3 linked regions of the Homo sapiens genome follow. The protein of the gene in region 1 interacts with the protein of each later gene in a pairwise test. Each region holds a gene or a part of one and is shown in the gene's direction. Other genes may lie near its edges.

What was found.
Region 2: the proteins of MSRB3 (region 1) and MED12L interact in binary tests that used the Homo sapiens proteins (3 or more experiments, as listed by UniProt).
Region 3: the proteins of MSRB3 (region 1) and GPR37 interact in binary tests that used the Homo sapiens proteins (3 or more experiments, as listed by UniProt).

Annotation. Positions count from the first base shown.
Region 1 is NC_000012.12:65,323,326-65,331,122, forward strand, and holds part of MSRB3 (methionine-R-sulfoxide reductase B3 isoform 2 precursor), read left to right. Parts: intron 1-3,500; coding exon 3,501-3,609; intron 3,610-5,200; coding exon 5,201-5,278; intron 5,279-7,797. UniProt on the Homo sapiens protein: Catalyzes the reduction of free and protein-bound methionine sulfoxide to methionine. Isoform 2 is essential for hearing.
Region 2 is NC_000003.12:151,080,941-151,089,061, forward strand, and holds the start of MED12L (mediator of RNA polymerase II transcription subunit 12-like protein), read left to right. Parts: upstream 1-4,723; 5' UTR 4,724-4,996; intron 4,997-5,714; exon of another isoform or gene 5,715-5,857; 5' UTR 5,858-5,986; coding exon 5,987-6,085; intron 6,086-8,121. UniProt on the Homo sapiens protein: May be a component of the Mediator complex, a coactivator involved in the regulated transcription of nearly all RNA polymerase II-dependent genes.
Region 3 is NC_000007.14:124,742,987-124,748,792, reverse strand, and holds the end of GPR37 (prosaposin receptor GPR37 precursor), read left to right. Parts: intron 1-1,449; coding exon 1,450-2,268; 3' UTR 2,269-4,908; downstream 4,909-5,806.

The DNA of each region.
Region 1 (7,797 bases):
AGACTTTGGACATATTTCAATAAATAAAATATCCTTGGACTATGTTCAAGATGGAACTGATCTATCTCAAAGTTACTCTGTAAGGAACGGTGTTATGATTAGATACCAAAATGGCAATATTATCTCCTCAAATATGTAATTGTGTTACATGTGTGTACACACACACTCACTTGTGCCTTCAAAAGACACTATTAAACATTTAAATAAAGGGAAAAATCTTTCCCAAACATACTTCTAAGCCAATTTAGAGGTCATTGAACAGATGTCATATAATACTAATGTTAAATTACCCTGTGTAATAAGAAAATTACAGTACCTAAGTGAAGATAGTAAAGGGAAACCATCCAATGAATTACTCCAGAATTTCAAAATGAAATGATTTTTTCAAGATTAACAGTGGCACCATATGACTTTAGAAAAGTGAGTCTGATAGGGAGAAGGGAAATAAGAGACAAAAGTGAAGCTTTTCTGTGTTTATATATACCAATATTTGGTTCTGATGATAGAAGGGCTAATGTAATAGTATAGCTTTAAATTGTCCAGGAAGTATATTATTATTATTAAATGGTGTGGCAAGATATTTATTAAAATCTGACCAACTTCTCATTGAATTGTTTAATGTAAAATCACAATAGTTGTTTCTAGTCTACATATATTTCCTTTTGGTATTAGATATACTTTGAAAACCTAATTATTTTGAGAATATAGTATAACCAAAGAATGAAAATGTACAAAGTTTGACAACTTTAAATAATCACTAGTATTTCTTAAAGGACAAACCTCACTTACAGTTAGGAAACAATATTTATACTTAAGGTTGAAAAGCCAGGATGTAAAAAAATTTTGCTAATTTGGAAGATGACCTTTAAGTGCACCAAAACCAAATAATTTGTAGGCTATGACATAGGGCACATTCCTACAAAATTTGTGTGAATACTGCTTTAGTGGTTCTTGAAAGACAAACAAAGAAAGCTGGAATGAAATCTTTATTCCCCTCCCAAATAAGACGGAGACTAACAAAGGAGTACAGCAGCACTCTTTCAAGGCTTGCCATTAAAACGAGGTCTCTGTAGCACAGTTAATGAGATGTTTCATAGTGGAAAACAATCTGTTTTTAAGAATGTTTAGATCAAAAGTAATTTCTAATCTATGAAATAAAGTCTCTTCAATACCCTTCATTCACTAGTAAAGCTTTTATGTTTGTATTATTTACTTCAATCAGATGTTTTCAATTTTACCTTTTTTTCTTGTACAAATACTTGACATGGTTCATCAATACTGACCAACGGTTTTATTCTCTTCGGAAAAGAGAGATTCATGAGAGAGGGAGAATGAAAAAGAGAGAAACATCTTTGCCTAAATGATTTGCAAGCATCTGTGCTTTAAGCTACTTTTTATGAACACTCCTTAGTAAATGACTCAAGGTAAAAAGGCAGAAAAGCATCCAATGTTAGGAAATTGCAATCCAATACCATGTAATTTAAACCTGCAGTTGCTTCTCTTGTACTAAATGACATACAGATGGGTAGCTTAGTTCTCTCAACTTTGGGAACACAATTGGTCTTTTTGTATGAATGAACGTATATTAACAAAAATATTTTGGATAGAATTGTTTGATTTTAATTGTACATATTTTAATTATGCCATTGAAAAGAATAATTTTAACCAAGTCATTTTGTCATGTTAAGTTTGCATTTAATGATTTTGTGACAGTATTAACTAAGATACAACCCTTCCAACAAACACATGAGAATAAAATAATTTTTAAGAAGTCTGTACTGAATTAAGCAGAAACTCACCTATCACTGTTGACTGATTATTTAAGAAAGAGCCACTTTGCATTCAAGCTATTGAGAGGCTTGTTCTGATAGGACAGACATTTCTCAGGGAAACATTTCTACCTAACCGTTGATAACAGCAAAAATACAAGTAGTAGGTATTTGGATAAAGCCTAGGATAAGACGGGGTCCAGTGAGATGAGAGATCAACATGCCATTAGTGACATGCCTGCTGTGCCTGTGGATCTTTGCAGGCCAGGGAAGGGCTGAAGTATTTGTGGAAGGTCAGCAGAGGTGCTGTCTGACAACCTGCAGGCCCACTCCAAGGTGTATCTTGCTCTTTGGGTCTGGCTTGCTCTTTTGCTGCCTCCATTTTCTCTTGTGGAGAATCAACCGCTCTATCTTGGTGGCCCGGATTCTGCAAGCTGATATCCTTCTTCAACACCACAGTCAGGGTAACCGGCTAGACAATATTTTCCTAGTTTAAGGTCAGCGATCTCATACTATGACATTAGGTACCTTGAACGTAAAAAAAACGGGAAGCATTTCCACTCCTAATCATATTTCTTTATATTTCAAAAGAAGTTGCGTTTAGTATTTGGGAAACTAAGCAAGCTTTCTTCTAGTAACTTCAAAACATGGCAAGAACTCTCTACATTTAGGACCATCTGCAGGCCTCTTTCCCACTGTGATGGATGGCAAAGAAAAGCAATTTTACTGCAGTGAGTAATGGCTACCCTGTCCTGGAGTTATATTTCTTTTCAGTCATTTGCTCATGTAAAATAAAATACTACATATAAACAGGTGTTGTCTGAACATTTTACTGCAGGCTGTATAGGTTGAAATAAAAGCTGCCATTGTTATTAGAATCACATTAGAATTATTTCACCATTCAAATACAGTTAATCAGTAAAGTCTTCCTAGATATACTTTGCAAAAAGAAAATGTAGGTTTCTAAAAATATTCACATTTCCTTTTTTCTTTGTCTTTCTCCCTTTCTGTTTTTCCCACTCTTTCTTTGGAACTTCTTGAATCTGCATTAGTGAAAATGCCTTCTCCTGTAGTTTATTGAAAGTTTCTTGCTGCCCATTTAACATGGTAAGATACAGTCTTTGAAGAGATATACAGAATCTTTATACTTTGAAGGAGTATACAGAATCTAGTGAAGTTTCTGATGGAATCATGGAGAACAGTAATTCCTGGTCATAGAAAAATATATTTTTAGGGCTCAAAAATAGGATGGTAGTTAAATCATCCACAATGGAAATGGAATTTTGATGGTTTCAGGCTATTCTACTAAGTTGCAAAATTATTGCAGACTTACGGTTTAACATAATATGCCCATCATTTTATATATACAGTATAAATGTTTGTAAATAGACTTATGCTTTTGAATTTATTTGAAAAAAAAAGGGTTTCAGGATACTGGGAGTTATAAAGCATGTACCTTGTGAATGATCAGTGAATTTTTAGTATCACATGCTAGAGACTGGCTGTAGCATATTGTCACTGCTCCAGTGGAATCATCTGAATCTTAAGAAACATTCATTTTAAACGTAGAGAAATAATCAGCTGCAGTTCAGGTAAGCATTTCCAGTGCATTAGAGACTGGTCTGGTCATTGACAAGTGACTGCAGAAGCTGTGCTGTGGCGGTCAGCCAAAGCAATTATTTAGGATTCAAGCTAAAAAGGCTTCTTCTCCCATATCCTCTCTCTTTTCAGGGTCGTGTAGGGATAAAAAGAACTGTAAGGTGGTCTTTTCCCAGCAGGAACTGAGGAAGCGGCTAACACCCCTGCAGTACCATGTCACTCAGGAGAAAGGGACCGAAAGGTAAGGTGAGCTTTAATAAAAAGTCATTAAGAGCTAGATTTCTTCTCCCCCTGCCCTCTGCAGTGCTTTTCCTTGCCAATTAATTTAAAGCATTCTATACTTACTTGCTAAAGTCTATGAATTAGTATCCTTGAAAAGGTTAAAATGGTGTTGTTTAGGTTAAGACTAAGTTTTATTTGTTCTTTTCTCCATTTAATGAATACTGCATATCTGATATAAAGTCACAAAGCTTTTGTTAAGGGCCTGTTTTTAGTTTACTACAAAATGTGTGGAAGTAACAGCGATTTAGGTACATTTTTTGGGAAGACATCACAGTAAGCAAAACCATGAGGGACTTGGCACTATGCCAGGATGCTGAAATTTTGAAGGTGGCCATTGTAAGTATAGACGTTTTGGCTGCAAAAAGAAGGTAGCATAATTTAGTTCTTTTCTACCCAACTCCAATTTCTTTTTGAAGCACATGTGGAGAAAGTATTTATTGGCTCATTTGTGGTTGGAATGTCAAAAATTTTCAATAACTGCCCTCACATGGCTTTGGTCCTTGGAAGTTCGCCCTAAGTCCTGAAAAAAGAGTTTGTTCACTTCCAAGACTGTTTTTAGTGAATAAAGCCTCTCTCAGCTGATTCCAGCTCAAAGGTAACTTGCCAAGGTCCGACGACTTTGTTGTCTAATTTATACCATGGAGCTTGGCGTAAGACCGTAGCTTACCTCTGATCCAAATTTATTAATGATGTAACTTCTTGTTTTCATTCATGAACTGAAAGAGCTCTCTACTACACATGGGATCCCTGTTAACAGGCAACACTCTCTTCCTGTCACAGTATCTACTGTTTACTGAATTTACCAAATGTTGAATCTCTGACGAAGTCCAACCTTAGCATACAATGAGCTAGCAGTGGACTTCAGTCTCAGCTTGCGAGGATTTCTATCCGTTCTGTTGTGTACATGACTAGCAAAATGATTTAATGCACACAAACAACCAGAGATTAGGTCATTCTTAAAAATTCTGTTTATAAAAAATTTGGACCTCATAAAGAGGGTGAAAGGATAATAAAAACAAGCTGCAGAGCACATAGACTTTTTGTTGGGCTAGCACAGCTGATTTGTATTAGCTGAATGACCTCCTAGCCTTTAAGATTGTTAACTTAGAAAAATATTCCCTTAAAGCTGCAATATTCCTTTTCAAACCAAAAAATAAGACTCCTTCCACTTGAAGTCTTGGACCCTTCTGCATTTTCTGGTATATACTCTTGCACACTGTAAAGTAGCAAAATCTTATGTAATGTTCTTTCTGTGAATCTAAACTACAGGCTTTTTTTTTTAATAGAAAAAAATCTTTTTCTAAGCATTACATAACTAGATGGCTTGATTTTTTTATGTAACTTGCACTAGTTTGGAGTAGTTATATGCACATTTTATTATATAGATTTGAAATATATTAGTAAAGTTCAGATTTCCATATGTTTGGTTTGTTTTCATTCTAGTACAAAAAGCCCTTGAAAGATTTATTAGAGAAATATATTTTAAGCAAATACATTCTGTAAGAAATAATGCTAACTTTAATTTTTTAAATGATCTGTTTATTTATCAGTGCCTTTGAAGGAGAATACACACATCACAAAGATCCTGGAATATATAAATGTGTTGTTTGTGGAACTCCATTGTTTAAGTAAGTATGTTGAAAACCTATAGGTATGGCTGTATCATAGATGGCAGCAAACTAGTTATTGCTTTTTCATCTTAGAATCTTTCCATTGCTGAATTTTCTTCTGTTTGTTTTTCTATTTCCATTTACCCCCAACAAAACAAAAGTAATTATTGATTTCATGGTAAATTACCAGTGTGACAGACTGGCTGATTTTGCACTACTTGGATCTTTAAAATACCCAACATTAACTTGTTCATGTCAGTAACCATGGTGCTTAGCAGAGCTGTGAAAGAGATTTTGGCAAGCATAGAAATGTTTATGCATTTACTGATTTTTTAAATCTTCAAATGACAGCCTTAAATATTTATTGGAACATAATGAAAAGTTCTTCATGTATATACTTCACATTGAATAAAATCCACCAAGTAGATTATACTTTTGCAATGAAGGGAAATACCTGTATTGAATGTAACATGGGAACATACCTTTACATAGGTAAGCAAATTATGTAATATGAGGTTAACAGTTTTTGCATAGATTCAAAATCTTTATTTTAAAGATCCCAACAGTTTACCATAAAACAGGCAGCACACTGGACTTTCTGACTAAAATAGTTCATTCAGATAGTGTATTCTGGAGATTATGGATGTTATTCAAGAAAGGGAAATCTTTACCAAAAACTTATTTATCTAGGTGGAGAAAATTCTAGAAGCCCTATGCTTCCCATGGGTTGCTGACTTGGGGGAATAAAAAGGCAGAAACCTTAATTGGGAGTAAATGTCATTGGCTGGGTGTGGTGGCCCAGGCCTGCAATCACAGCACTTTGGGAGGCCAAGACGGGTGCATCACTTGAGGTCAGGAGTTCGAGATTAGCCTGGCCAACATGGTGAAACCCCATCTCTACTAAAAATACAAAAATTAGATAGGCATGGTGGTGTGCGCCTGTAGTCCCAGCTACTCGGGAGGCTGAGGCAGGAGAATCACTTGAACCCAGGAGGCGGAGGTTGCAGTCAGCCAAGTGTGCCACTGCACTCAAGCCTGGGCGACAGAGTAAGATTCCGTCTCAAAAAAAAAAAAAAAGTAAATGTCATTTATTTAAAATGGAATTACAGAGTTTCTTAGGGGAAATAAATAAACAAGGATCTGATACTTGTAGCTAAAACACACTTAATATCTCTCCATAAATGTTTCTCTTTTAAAAAACCAGCATTTACTGATTTTCCAGAAATAACAGGAAACAGTGGTTTCCTTGAAATTAAAAAAATGTTTCTTACATTGCACAAACCTTATTGAACATTACCATTGGTTGAGAATCTGTTCTGAATTCTTACGTATTCCTTCTGTTAAAAAACCGACCCTTCAAATTGTCACCCATTTCCTCTCAGAAAACACACTCCGTATATAATGTTTCAACACCTTTAGCTTATGTCATAATAGTTGATATAACACTTAAGATAGTTGCTGAGCCATGTTAAACTTGTTAATATCCCAAATGGTAAAAATTGGCCACATCCCCTTTACTTTTTGATTCAGATTCTCCATCCCCTTCCCTACCATGTGATTCACTAAAGTATGGGATCTAAAGAAAACTTACTGTTTTAAATAAGAAACAGAACCACTGTAAATGAAGGGTTTAACCCTTGTGAGATTTTTGAGTCACAAATCCTAAAAGCAAGACCCTTATCCAAACATAGATGCTAGTGGGAGTCAGGTTTCACATTTGATGTGATATTGCCTCTATTTCATCTACTTCTGTGCTTACAAGGAGAGCTTTTATTTTCCACATTTATAAGGAATGTGATTTAATACTTTCATTCTACTTTTTTCTTCTTTTAATTGTTTGCTTCTTTTTTACTTGCTTTCTTGTCTATTTTGGGAAAAATTCCTTGCTGTATCCTTCACTGGAGAATGTAGTCGAGTAGCTCATTGGTCTAGTGCCAACTTCTGTATGTGTACTTTCCTGAAACTGATATGTCTGAGAGTCTGTGGTTGGCTGCGTCTTCCTCCCATCTCCTCTATCATGACCACCCTTCTCCCACCTCACAAAAGATGACATACCTTTCACCCAGCCCAAATCTTACCATGTATTGCCCTGGGGTACAATCTCCAGGGCATCAAACAAAATGACAGTTCGGCAACTTTAAAGAGACTCGAAAGCAAGGTTAAAAAAGTGTTGGTAAAAAATAGTGAAATCGTATTTCACCTTGGCAAGGCTCCTGGCACAGCACAGTCCACCTCCCTGTCTGCCTGCTTGTCTGTCTCTCCATCTGCTGACTGTCCATTCATTTTCTACTAGCCTACTTAAGTGAGAAGGCTGCCATGAGAACATGTATTCATATCTTTATTCAAATGAACAAAAACGAAATAATTGGAAGTCTTTTTTTCGGACACAGAATACATCCGATTTGGTTGATTAATTTGACAGTGAGGACTGGCTTTGTAAATTATATGGTGGACTTCATCTGCTCAGTGATCTAAATATGTATCTCTAAGGTTTTGTCAAATCTACATTTTACGTATGTGTAAAGTACACAAAACAC
Region 2 (8,121 bases), on another chromosome or scaffold:
CGCAACAATCCCATGAGGAAAGCTAGCAACTTTAATTACTTTACCTACAGGCACTACACTGAGAATTGTTTCTTTCCACTTGAGTGGAATTGTGCTGCTATGCCAGAGTGAGCTGTCAGGAGTTTTGCTTCTCTTATACCAGAACTGTCTTCAAAGGCTCACCTTTATGTGTTATGTAAATGATAATTAATACATGTAACACATTGACAACAATAATAAGCATAAGTTTGGGAGTCAGAGAGATTCTAGGTTTGATTCTGGCTTTGCTAGTCGCTAACTCAATGGCCTGGGAACAGCAGCTTCACCTCTGGAGCCCTACCTACTAATCTGTAAAATAGGAATAGGAATAGTAGGACCACTCCCTTCCCTTCCCTTCCCTTCCCTTCCCTTCCCTTCCCTTCCCTTCCCTTCCCTTCCCTTCCCTTCCCTTCCCTTCCCTCCCCTCCCCTCCCCTCCCCTCCCCTCCCCTCCCCTCCCCTCCCCTTCCCTCCCCCTTCCCCCTCCCCCTCCCACTTCCCCTGCCTTTTCCTTCCCTTCCCTTCCCTTCTCTTTTCTCTTTTCTTTTTTCTTTTTTTGAGACAGAGTCTCTGTTACCCAGGCTGGAGTGCAGTGGGGTGACCGCCGCTCACTGCAACCTTCACCTCCCAGATTCAAGCGATTCTCCTGCCTCAGCCTCCCAAGCAGCTGGGACTACAGGCATGCACCACCACGCCCAGCTAATTTTTTGTTTGCTATGTTGGCCAGGCTGGTCTTGAACTCCTGGCCTCAAGTGATCCACCCACCTGGGCCCTCCCAAAGTGCTGGGATTACATGTGTGAGCCACCATGCCCAGCCAGGACCACAGTTTCTGATGGGTAAACATCCTGCCTCTGCTCCTAGCCATTCTTCACTCTCATTTAAAAAATCTGCTCTGCTGCCAGGTGCGGTGGCTCATGCCTGTAATCCCAGCACTTTGGGAGGCCAAGATGGGTGGATCGCTTGAGGCCAGGAGTTTGAGACTAGCCTGGCCAACATGGCAAAACTCCATCTCTACTAAAAATACAAAAATTAGCCAGGTGTGGGGGCATGCACCTGTGATCCCAGCTACTCAGGAGGCTGAGGCAGGAGAATCGCCTGAATCCGGGAGGTGGAGATTGCAGTGAGCAGAGATGGCGCCACTGCACTCCAGCCTGGGTGACAGAGCAAAACTCTGTCTCAAACAAAACAAAACAAACAAACAAAACAAAACAAAAAACAACTTCTCTGCAAATGATTGTGTCTCTGCCTTTCACCAAAGAAATTTTATTCCTCACTTCAAACTTTTTGAGAGGGTCACTGACCTGAGCATTTGACATTCATCCTCTGCAGTTTGGATGAACCTGAGGAACTGGTCTCCGATTTAGACTATTGAACTTTCAAGGTGGAGAATTGTGGCTTGCAGAGTGTGTTCATGGTGGGCAAGGACAGAAGGCTGGTTAGAAAATGCCTGCACTAGCGTATGTACAGGCAAAGGACATTTGTGTATTTCTGGCAGACCAAATGTAGGGAGAGAAAGCCAGCCATGAGCTATATTGAAGGGATTTGCCCAAAAGCACAAATGGATACCAACTGTGAGGGACTCCTTGCAGAATGCTGAAAATCAGGGCTTTCAGAGGGAACATAAGCAGTTAGGGAATCTTTGAGAAACCCTTGAATGTGACCCAAGAAAAAGGGTCAACTTTTAAATACCTGGTAACCCTCAAAAGCAGCAGTGAAGACTCAGCTTTATACTTGGAGGATATAGCACCATATGCTTAAAATGGTTTGTAATTCATTCACCTTTCTCCAGCCACATTTCAACCCCATTTCCCTGGATAGCTATACAAAACTTCCTTAGGAACCTGAACTCATCCCTTCTTGCTAGGCTGAGGTTCAAGGCTGGGACCTATTTGGGGAGCCTCTGGTCTTCTCTAATTTCTGTTCCATGCAAATTTTTCCTGGTCCCAGGGAATCATTAGCTAGGTAAAGATAAAATACCCCTTAGGAACAGTATCAGCTAGAACCCACATTATTCAACGAGAATGTTTGCCTGCTATATTAACCAGCACCACGTGGGAAATTCAAGCACTGTATAGAACACAGTGGGTTACAGGTTAAGCCCATCATGATGAGCTGATCTTAGTCTGCTTAAAGACCTGGAATGGAAGAAGGGGACCAGGAGGAAAAGGTGAGAATGAGGCAACAAGACTATTCTGTGTGACACATTCAAATGCATGCCAATAAATAAGTGTTAAGATAATAAAAATTAAGTGCTAAGGGCACTAAAAAGCCAAAAGATCACCTTTTGCCAGGGGAATTTGAAGGGGCTTTGTACAGGAATCCGTACTCTGAGGACTGTAGAGGTGAGTATTTGAAGATGAAGAGCCTGGGAATTCCATATTAGGAAAGGAAGCTAACTAGGGCAAGAGGTTAAGGAGAAAAAGCTGAATTGCTAGGTAGGGGGTAGATTACAAAGATTTCCCAGGGTAAGGAGCCAAATGCCCATGGGAAATCCATGCAGTAAAATAATGATTCCTAGGGGAAGCTTCTAAGCATATTAAAGTTTTCAATATTTATTTATTTTGTGTTGAGAGGGTCAAGGAATTCATGCCAGACTGTTTCAGGAGAGGGAGTTAAGAAGGGACAACAACAGGGAGAGGGCTATTATTTTCCCTTCTTCCCAAACACCAGGGGCACACTACTGACACATTTTGATTTTAAGATAAAATTCTTATGGGCAGATAAGATTTTAAGTGCTTCAAAGTGTTTCAGTTGGAGGCGCTTGCTTAGGCATCCCAAGGGAAGAACTGAGATTACATTTCTCCCCCAAACTAGGGGTGTTTGATTCAGTAGCAGCGCAGGCTGTTATTCCCAAAGTACCACTAATGATGCAATCATCAGTCCATCCACACATCGCCTACCTATCATCCATTCCATAAGCCAACATTTTTGAATGCTCACCATGTGTCAGGTCCCATACAGTGTTTCTGAGTTGCAACAATGAGTAAAACTGTCCTTACTAGTGTATGTCAGTGAGTTGGGAATGGGGGAGAAAGATGAAACAAAAATAGTAACTTTAATTTTTATAGCTGAGAGATGAATATTTGAGGGCTCCTTATATGATTTCTTCAGCTTTTTGTATGTTTAATAATTTCCCTAATAAAGTTAGATAATAAAAAAAACCCTTTCGGCCGGGCGCGGTGGCTCACGCCTGTAATCCCAGCACTTTGGGAGGCCGAGGTGGGCGGATTGCGAGGTCAGGAGATCGAGACCATCCTAGCTAACACTGTGAAACCCCGTCTCTACTAAAAAAAAGAAATACAAAAAAAATTAGCCGGGCGTGGTGGCGGGCGCCTGTAGCCCCAGCTACGCGGGAGGCTGAGGCAGGAGAATGGCGTGAACCCAGGAGGCGGAGCTTGCAGTGAGCCGAGATCTCGCCACTGCACTCCAGCCTGGGCGACAGAGCGAGGCTCTGTCTCAAAAAACAACCAACCAACCAAACAAAGAAAACAACAACAACAAAAAACTGTCCTTTCTTTCAAACAAGGGAGCTACATTTGATAGATGCCTGTATCACAAGGGCAAGTCCAGCCATGAAATTAATCCCAGGATATTAGTGGAAGAGAAGACCCTGGGGCAAGATGGGGAAGGTGGTCAGGAAATGCCCTCCAGTGAAGTTAGGTAAATGCTCTCTAGAAGTAATTGTTCAGATTAAGGAAGCCAAAAGCTAAACACCTGACTCAGCCTCAAACTGGGTTTGGAGGTGCTCACAGGTCAGGATCAGGAGTGAGGAACTAGCCTCTACCACATTACCTTCACTTTATTTATCTCCTTCTTCCCCCTTTGCTTAAATGTCAACGAACATCAAAGTTGATGTTCAGATTCAACCAGCATTTCCAGAGCACCTACTATGTATCAAAGGCTTCCGGTTAGAATCTGCCTTTACCACCTTACAGAGAGGGAAGGCCGAGAATGCCTCAAGCCGTGGAGAACGTGAGTCCATCAGGCAAGGACAGGTTAGGAACCCAGTCCCTCCAAGTCCAAGTCAGGGAAAACAGGTCAGAAACTTAGAATCAGTCGTGGGTTCAAATTCCGACTCGTTTCGTGGCTTTCGGCAAGTGAGTGGTCCTCTCTGAGCTGGCTCAATTTCTCCATCCATAAAAAGGGTACAGTAAGACCGTGGAAGGTTGTAAGGACCAGAGATTCTGACTATCAAGATCCTGGCACGTAGCGAAGGCTCCATAAATGGCAGCCATCATTCTTGGCCAAGTGCGGGCGCATTCTCCCGGGCACGCCTCCCGCGGGGTCCCTCAGGACAGGCCGAGCCCGCCTCCGCGGCTCCGGTCTCGCAGAGCTCGCGCCAGGTGGCCCAGCATCTTGGTGCCCGCGCCCCGAAGCGAGGAGCGAGGGCGGGTTGGATGACCAAGGTCTGCCCTGGAGGATCACCCCCCCCGCCCCTTCCACGCTCCCGGCGCAGGTGAGGTTTTCGGCCCAGGCCACGGGGACCGCGACCTCTGGGGAGGTCGAGGCGGAGGGTGCAGCGGGGGGCTTGGAGCAGGGCTCCAGAGGGCGCTCCCTCCCTCGCCCAGGTTCACCCCAGGGCCAGCCTCGGCGCCGGGGCCCGCGGGCTGCGCGCTCTGCGGCTGCGAAAACCCGGAGAGGCGGATTGGAGCGCGCTCACCGCGCTCTCAGCCAACTCCTCCGCGGTCCGGCCGCCGAGCTGGGCATGCTCAGTGCGGACGCCGCGCCGCCGTCCGCCAACTCGGAAGCTCGCGCTCCCGGGCCGTGGGGGCGAGAACGCCGGCGGCGAGCCGGCGTCGCTCGCCGCCCCCAGACAGTGGCAAACTTCGCGGCGTTCCCGGAGCTCGTCCGGGCGAGGCAGATACCGCACAAATAAAATCAAATCCAAGTCCCCCATCCCAACCCGAATGATGGAGGCTGCGGCGGCCGGAGTGACCCCGCCGCCGCCAGCCCCAGCCCGCTAGCCGCGGACCAACAGGTAAAGTGTTGGGGGTTGGGGGCGGAAGGGAAGAGGAGCTGGGGCCGTGGGGAGGCGGCGGGCTGGAGGAGCCCGAGACGCCTGCGGGCTGGCTGCCCCCGTCGGCGCTCACAGCCATCGCTCCTCACCCCCTTCCCCAGCCCCTGGAGGGACTGTAAAGGGTTAAGTCGGCCCCACGCCACCGTGAGCACGGCCCCCTCCAGCCGCCGCGACCGCCAGCAGCGCGCCTCGGCGCCTGCCCGGAGCCGCCGAGGGGACCGTAGCTGCGGATGCGCCACTGGAACCTGGCGGGCGTCTAGGAGGCACCGGCCGCTTCCCACCGGCCGCATCCCTGCGTCTCGCGCCCCCTCCAGACCTGCCTCTGCCTGCACTGGCCCGGTCCGTGTCCAGGTGGCGGGGTCTGCGGGGCGCGTGGCGGCGGGGGAAGGGTCCCTGCCGGGGAAGAGAGGCGGGGGCGGTCCGCTCCACAGCTTCTTCCCGGGAGGGGAGGGCCACCCTCGCCTTGGGCGAGCACTTCAGCCACCAGCCTAGGCGCCAAGAAAAGTTTTTTTTTTTTTTTTTCCAGTGCCCCACCCCCACCCCCATCCTGCGCCCAGCTGGGGTGGGTTTGGGTCCATTGGTGAAAAAAGTCACACGTTCCCATCAGCTGCTCCTCCCCCTGGAGACAAGGTAGGGGGGAGCAGAGGAGGCAGGCGCCGCGGAGGACCCTGGCCGACCTCTAGTCCCTCCGCCGCCGCCACCGGAGCGGTGCGTCCCGGGGCTCGAGCGCAGCCGAGTACCCGCCGAAGGCTGTCCCCATCAGTGCGTGTCTGCTGCCGGGCAGCGGCAGCATCCAACCTGCTTTATTCCTCCTGCCTGCAGCGCCACAGCGAGCGAGCGAGCGAGGAGGGGGAGAGAGGGAGTCTGTCTGCAAAGTGCTGCTCCCTGGTGCTCAGAGGCGGCTGCTCCAGCTCCAACTCTCATTCATTTCGCCGGTTAACATGAGAGATCATGGCCGCCTTCGGGCTTCTCAGCTATGAGCAGAGACCGCTGAAGCGCCCCCGGCTCGGGCCGCCCGACGTCTACCCACAGGACCCCAAGCAGAAGGAGGTAAGGGCGCCGGCGGCCTCCCCGGCAACCGGGGCCGCGCTCTGCAGCACTGACCCGGGGCCAAGTTGGCCCAGCGGGCATCGCCGGCGCTGCGGTGGAAGAGGTCGGGGAGGGGGATTAGAGGCGGGGGCCAGGCTGGGGGTGCTGGGCGACCCCCCGGCGGCGGAGACCGAGCGGCTGTCAGTCCCCGCGCTCCACTGGGGCGCTCGCTTTCCATGTGCCGGTCGCTTTCCCGTTGCCGGGCCTTGCACGGCGCCGCCGGGCGCTTCTCGGGCTTCTTCCCTGCCGAAACCTTGCTCGCTCTCACCCGTTTCTGCCTGCTTTATTTTTCTTCTTGCCGCTTCGGTAAATCGTCGTAAACTTTTTGAAAAATGTTGGAATGCAGTGCATCCTACACTGAGGTCTTGCGTTTTGCTTTTGCTGGCCAGGGACGAAGGTGAGGGGGAAGCTTTTCAAATTTTCCAGTTTGGAATGGAAGTCGTTTTTATCGAAGTGATAAATATTTAGCTCTCTGAATATACCTCTGTAACCCTTCTGCCCTTTAAAAATTAAAATTAAGGAGAAACACTGATTTTCGTCTCTAGAGGCAATGGGCTTAATTGCTAGAGGCTGTTTTGTATACGTAAAAGCAGGCGAGTTACCTTGGGAGGGAATAGTTCCCAGGATTGCTTATTTCTTTGAATGAGATTAATTGGAGACACCTTGACTCTTGCACCAGCTACATTAGCTTCAATGGCTAGGGTAACCATGGCATTTTGTAGCTGTGTATCTGTTTGTCAGGAGTTAACAAGTAATTATGTAACAAGTCTCTAGTTATAATGATCACCTTTGGCTACACCATTTGCCCAGGGACTTGCCTTTTTTTTGTTTTTTTTTTGATCACCTGCTACCCAGCAGTGCTTTCTGAGTTTGCCAGCTGCAGTCCACCCATCTTCTGTTCAGCTAAACACGAACTGACCATATTTCAAAACTTACCTTTCTGAGAATCTAAAAACCCTCCATTAAAAGTTTGTGGGCCCACTGATAGCACAGAAAGGGCCTTGTAAACCAGGCAAGGAGGGGTCCTTAAGACTTTCCTTTTGATAAGTGTATCTTTCATTAGGAGAGTAAGTGCTTGTTCTGGCTAAACTGTCTTGCTTATAAAGTGTCTGAGAAGTAAGGAACAGCAACTCCTTTTAGAGGTTTAGCACACTAAATATGCTCTAGCATCAGTGGAGTCACGCAGATGAAAGCTGGGAAGGTTTTACAGGTGGTTTCCAGCACCAGCTTTACAGGATGGTAGAGGTTTGAGAAGATTTCCCAGATTTTTTTTCCTACCCGTTACCCCACCCTGCTACCCCAACTTAGAATGAAGTTAATGGTTAAGGACTGGAAATAATAGAGAAGCTGAGGATCAAGTGTACAGTTAATAGCTTAAAAATTATTGGGAGGAAATTCTTAAAGTTTTGATAGGGACAGGGATATTTTGTTGGTTGAACTTTATCATCTTGTAATTAATGTCTTACTCTGTCTTTCCAGAGGGCAGCATAATTGATGGCATGATGGCTTGGGGTGCTGTGTGGGCTTATTTAGCATTTGTTCTTCAGGCCAATGCTCATTTCACGACTGGGGCCTCTGATTCTGGAAAGAGTAATTTTGGATTTCAGGGTCTCACAACATTTTATGGAGTTCTAAAACTGGAAGCGACCTTAGGGACTACTTTCTATAACTTCCTTTTGACTAAGTGAAACAGGCCTGGGAAAGCTTGACTCGTTTAACCAAGGTGTATAGGTGAATAAGCAGAGGAGTTGTACCACCAAACCAGTATTTATGTCAAAACTAATACTGCTTTGAGGATGATTTATGCTAAATTATCTTCTGATGTTATCCCCTTTCCCCCAAGGCAGCCAATGTTTTAACTCTCCCAAGCAGACAGAGTTATGTGTGGCTGTAGCCAAATTTGGGTACAATATGGAACAGGTGCTTGGCTGTTCTTGGGTGGTTGGTGAGTAGAGTTTCCTAAGCTTTAGTTATTTATGTCCTACCTCCCTCAAGAT
Region 3 (5,806 bases), on another chromosome or scaffold:
TAGATGTCTGGACCATATGCTTATAAGAGCAGTGCCTTTTTGAATACAGTTTTTCATGTGGTTATTGTCAAAGAGTTTTATGCTCCAAAATTTTCCTGTGTTTGGGATATCTAGACATTCTTTTTGGCTATTTTCTGCATATTTTCTTGTATTTTTACATGTTCTATTTTAGTATCTCCTATTTCTTTAAATTTGATGTACATACCTATTTTATGATAAATATACTTCTTATGTCTGATTCTGTATCTTTGGCATATAAATTCATAGTGGCTCATTGTCTCTTGCATATTGTGACTTTTGATTTTGTGAACCCATGTCCCTTGAATTTTAACTATAGGATTTTTTGAGGCCTGGTTTTAAAGTGCATTCTTCCAGAGAGGATTTATGTTTGATTTTAACCAGGTGCCTGGGATTATTTTAAATTGTATTTTGGGTTTTCTGAGCCACGTAGATCCTGGAAATTCTGATCCTAACACCATGTAAGTTCAGGCTCCCAGTTAGAATTTGCCATTTTTTTCCCTCCTTTTCCCCCAGTTCATCCAGACCCAAACCCTGTCATCCAGGCAGATTTCTTCATTATCTCTCTCTCTTTTTTCCCTTTACACCTCTAAAGATGTCAGCATTTGAGGAGTTCCAAATTCACAGGGAGTCTTTGACCCAATCCCCACCCACATTGGCCCCAGCTCTGTTTCCTGTCTCTGTGCACCTGGGCACCTTGCCCCATTTTTCTAGCTAAAACTAACTTGAAACCCTCACCAGGATTGGCAGGTGCCCCTAGGGCAAACACGCAGCATGAAGAGGGAGGGGTCTCTGGCCTGTTTGAAATTTGTTTCCTTTTTGATTTTGGCCTCTGGAGAATTTCCCTTTCTTGTTTTCCGTAAGTGTATGCCTTTGAAAATAATACTGTAATACTTTATTTTGCATTTAGGAAAAATTGGAGGAGCCCTCCAATCATTTAGTCCATTGGAGACAATAAGCTCTTGAGTGTTTGCTGTGTGTAAGGCACACTACTGACCCTCACACTGGAAAACATGAGCATCCTGGTCAGCAATGAAAATGGGAATTTCTGCACTACCCTGACTCCTTATCTAGATCTCCTAGTGGCAGACATTTTCGTGGTGAATAAAATTTTTAGTGTATCTGGGTTCTGATCTATAATAAAAAGGGATTGGACTAGCTGATCTTTATGGATCCTTCCAGTCCTAAATGTTCTGCACTCCATGACCCTCAAACCACTACAGTGTGTTTTCTTTTTTTATGCTTACAATGATTCAGCTGACGTCCTGAGCCCAGTTACCCATGCCTCATTCTGGAAAACTGTTCTCTCTCTCTCTCTCATTTTTATTTATCCATATTTTTTTTTACAGTTTTGCCAATCTGCATTTATTTCCTAGTGCTTTGATCTTTCGGGGGACACCGGGAATAAATGTCTTCTATGTTCCCCCACAGGTCGCTTCTCTGGGAGTCACCACTTTCACCTTATGTGCTCTGTGCATAGACCGCTTCCGTGCTGCCACCAACGTACAGATGTACTACGAAATGATCGAAAACTGTTCCTCAACAACTGCCAAACTTGCTGTTATATGGGTGGGAGCTCTATTGTTAGCACTTCCAGAAGTTGTTCTCCGCCAGCTGAGCAAGGAGGATTTGGGGTTTAGTGGCCGAGCTCCGGCAGAAAGGTGCATTATTAAGATCTCTCCTGATTTACCAGACACCATCTATGTTCTAGCCCTCACCTACGACAGTGCGAGACTGTGGTGGTATTTTGGCTGTTACTTTTGTTTGCCCACGCTTTTCACCATCACCTGCTCTCTAGTGACTGCGAGGAAAATCCGCAAAGCAGAGAAAGCCTGTACCCGAGGGAATAAACGGCAGATTCAACTAGAGAGTCAGATGAACTGTACAGTAGTGGCACTGACCATTTTATATGGATTTTGCATTATTCCTGAAAATATCTGCAACATTGTTACTGCCTACATGGCTACAGGGGTTTCACAGCAGACAATGGACCTCCTTAATATCATCAGCCAGTTCCTTTTGTTCTTTAAGTCCTGTGTCACCCCAGTCCTCCTTTTCTGTCTCTGCAAACCCTTCAGTCGGGCCTTCATGGAGTGCTGCTGCTGTTGCTGTGAGGAATGCATTCAGAAGTCTTCAACGGTGACCAGTGATGACAATGACAACGAGTACACCACGGAACTCGAACTCTCGCCTTTCAGTACCATACGCCGTGAAATGTCCACTTTTGCTTCTGTCGGAACTCATTGCTGAAGGACAGTACTTGGTTGGGTCAGATTTATTTGTTTGATTTTCATATCCCGTGAAAGTTTTTAATTCATATTTTTCCTTATAGGGAAAAATGCAAAAAAGAAACAATAAAGAAAGAAATATTAACTACTGTAGAACTGATTTTACAAATTAATATTTGTGCTTTGAAAAAAAGTTTCTATTTAGTTATTTAAGAAGAATGAGAAGGCCAATAGTTTTAGATTATTTTATCTGGTATGGTGCTAATATTTTATTTGAAAAAAGTTACTGCAACTTAACTTAAAATTGCTAACGTTTTTTCTTCTTTTAAAAATACAATTATTGTATATTGATTATAGCAATGTGATTTTGTAGGTTATTTTATATTTGAGTTGTGATTGAAAGTATGTTGTATATGGTATTGTGAGATGATTTGTACTTGGAAGCATTCACAAAGTAGCACCAAATAAATTACACTTTATTCTTTAATGTCATTGTCAATCTACTTTTAACCAATATTCAATAAATCTTCTAATTGCCTTAAAGATACAATTACTGGTTCTATGCACAATTTAAAACCGGCCTTACTGTTTTATAACGTATTTTCTTTTAAGGCAGGTAATCATTATGTTATAAAGAAGTTTTTCTAATAGCAGTATTTTATATGCATGATTCATAAAACTATGTTGTATGTTAAAACAAAGCTGTATTTTTAATATTCAGGTATAGATGTCAAATTACTTCTGAATACTTATAAAATATGAATAAATAGCAGAGTAGGAAGAAAGTTTCTTTTTTAAAAAATTCACCTCTGAACTAGCACATAGAGCTACAGATTTTCCCTTGGGGAATTATGGGCAGAATCAAGAATTTTAAAATGCAGTTGTCATCTGATTTCCTCTGAACACTGACCTTTGAAGCTTTGTGAATCCTACGTAAAGCACTCTGAGTTCTAATTTTTCTCCTTTTGAAAAATAAACTTGATGAAATCTATACAACTTAATTTCTTTAAGTGCAATGAAAGTATAGGAGTGGAATAATAAAATATTTATATATTTTTATTAGAACATTCTACCTTTAACTTGATACTTCATAAACTCTGAATAAAAAAACCTAACCTCCTCCATTGGGAATATTTGAATCCCCTCTTTTGCCTCTTCTGGAGTTTAAAATGCAGCAGTTGTGTAGGATGCTTGCTGTGTGGGACACATGTCTAACTCAGGTGGCAGAGACCATGACCTAGTGACACAGTGATATTTAAAAGCTACCAAAGAAGATGTGTAGTTGGATGTCTTTGTCTTCAGAAAAATCTTGTTATAGAGAACCCAGTTTTCTTGCTGGGAAAACGTAGTTTCTGCTTGTTGATTTCTGTTCTACTCGGCATAAGTAAGTCAGTATTCCTTTTTCCAAATTATAACATGATGTTATTTAAAAATCATTAAAGAGATTGGTGCAGGTGAAACTTAAATGGCAGTGCCCAGGCTATCTCCTTTTTCCCAGTCCAATACTTTTCAAAGGGGTTTTTCCCTCCATTGTGTGTATTCTGTGGGATCTGCAGGAGAATTCAAACAAGGTGCCCTTGTCTTCTTGTAGATCCCTGTAATAGGTCTTTGGAAAATTTCTCAAGAGGACACCTGAGCTAGGTTTTGGCTGCTGAGCAGAACAGCAACTGTGATTCCATAGTGTCTCTCCTGATATTTAGTCACTTTATAAATCAAGGAACAATTGAGCATGTCATGTGGAAAAGATTCTATCCTATTACCTGAGTAACTAAAGGTAAATAGGTCACAGCCTCAGACCTTACAGAATCAGGCAGGGATGACATGGATGGGAAGGAATAAAATAAATACATAGACAACTATGATATAAGCTGGGGCTTGTTAGGTGCCTCAGGAAGATGTGAAGTTCTGCGATACTTTGGAATAGAGGGAATGCTTATAGGGTTAGAAGAGAGCATGAAAGGCTTTATGAGATAACTGGATGAGTGGGCTTTTAGAAGGAGCTGATGAAAGATGGTGTGAGGAGTGGACACTTCAGGAGGAGAGAGCTAATTTATAAAGGAATAGAAGAAGAAATCAGTGGGTGTGATTGAAGAATAAACAGCCCAGTTTGACTTCTGTGCTACGTGTGCATAGCAGCCTTGTGGGAAATATTAAAGAAAATATGCACCAAGGCCATCTAATAATAGGACCATGTTTTGAAAGATGTTTACATGGTGGTGCTTCAGGAAATGGGGCTTTGCTTTTAAGGTTTTTGAGTATGGAGAAATAGTATCCCAGCTCTGCAATAGGAAGATCAACTTGCAAACAGTTTAAATAGGCTGGTAGGGGACAGTCTGATCATGAAAAAGCAACTAGGAAGCTATTATAAGAGATTGAACCACAATGGAGGCAGCAGGAACTTAAATTTCTTTTTTCATTTATACTTGCCTTTCAACTTTTTGTAGTTGCAACATGTACTTTCTTATTGAATCCTACCTCTGTCAAAGTGGAAACTTTGATAACTCAAATTGTCCCAAGTATAAAGTGATTTCAAAGTTTTCTCATAGTCGTCTTGTGTTTTTCACAAAAACCAATTTCTATAATATACTTTTAAAAAATTGTTAATCATTTCTGTTCAACATTTCTTCAGTCTGGATCTTATCCAATGTCTTACGCTCCTCGTTAAACAACAAAAAAAAAAAAAAAAGAAAAAGAAAAAGAAACTCACATCTAAGATTAAGTTCAGTAAAATTTTGATTAATCAGAAAATGCTAGGAATGGCGTTTTCGTTACTTAACAGTAACACTTTTGTGGTTTCAGGGTAGTCAATGAAAATATTTTCAAAATATATGTCTATATCTATAACTGGATATAATTAACTCAATTTAACATTTATTTGATGATCCACAATTTTGAAGCCTTTGAATGTTTGACTTCAAGCAGCAAGAAAGATGGAGTGATAGTGGGAAGGTAAAGGTGAAGTGGTACTCTGAGGGATCAGTGGTTGAGAGGGAAGAGGTAGGAAGAAGAGCTTCACAGAGGAAAAGGATCAAATCCTTATTGTTCCATATTATAGATGTAAGTTACTGAATTCTAAGAAAATGCTGATACTTATTTTAAAAACTGTATCCCTAATCTTTTTTCCTCATCAGTTCCTTATTTCTCATAAAAGTAAAATTAGAATAAAAGATCCATTTCTTTAAGAATTATGGTGAGATTGATTTTAGTATGTTATGTAACGTAGCAAGTGATACTGAGTGCAGGGCATTTTAAGTAACAGCTCTTTCATTATATCTCAGCTAATTTATTCAACAACTATTGAATGAGTACTGTTATATGTTAAACACCATTGTAGGTGCATGTGATATAGCTGTGAACAAAACATCAAGAAGCTTTGCCCTCTCTTGTTGAGACAGACAGACACTATAAATAAGGAGAATACATAGTATATAGTTTTTAGAATACATAGCATTTTTGGTAGTGAAAATTACCATGGAGGAAAGGAGTACCAGGGTAAGGTGGGGTTATGAAGAAGATCTTACTGCTAATATGACATCAAATTAAGGCTTGAAGAGAGCAAT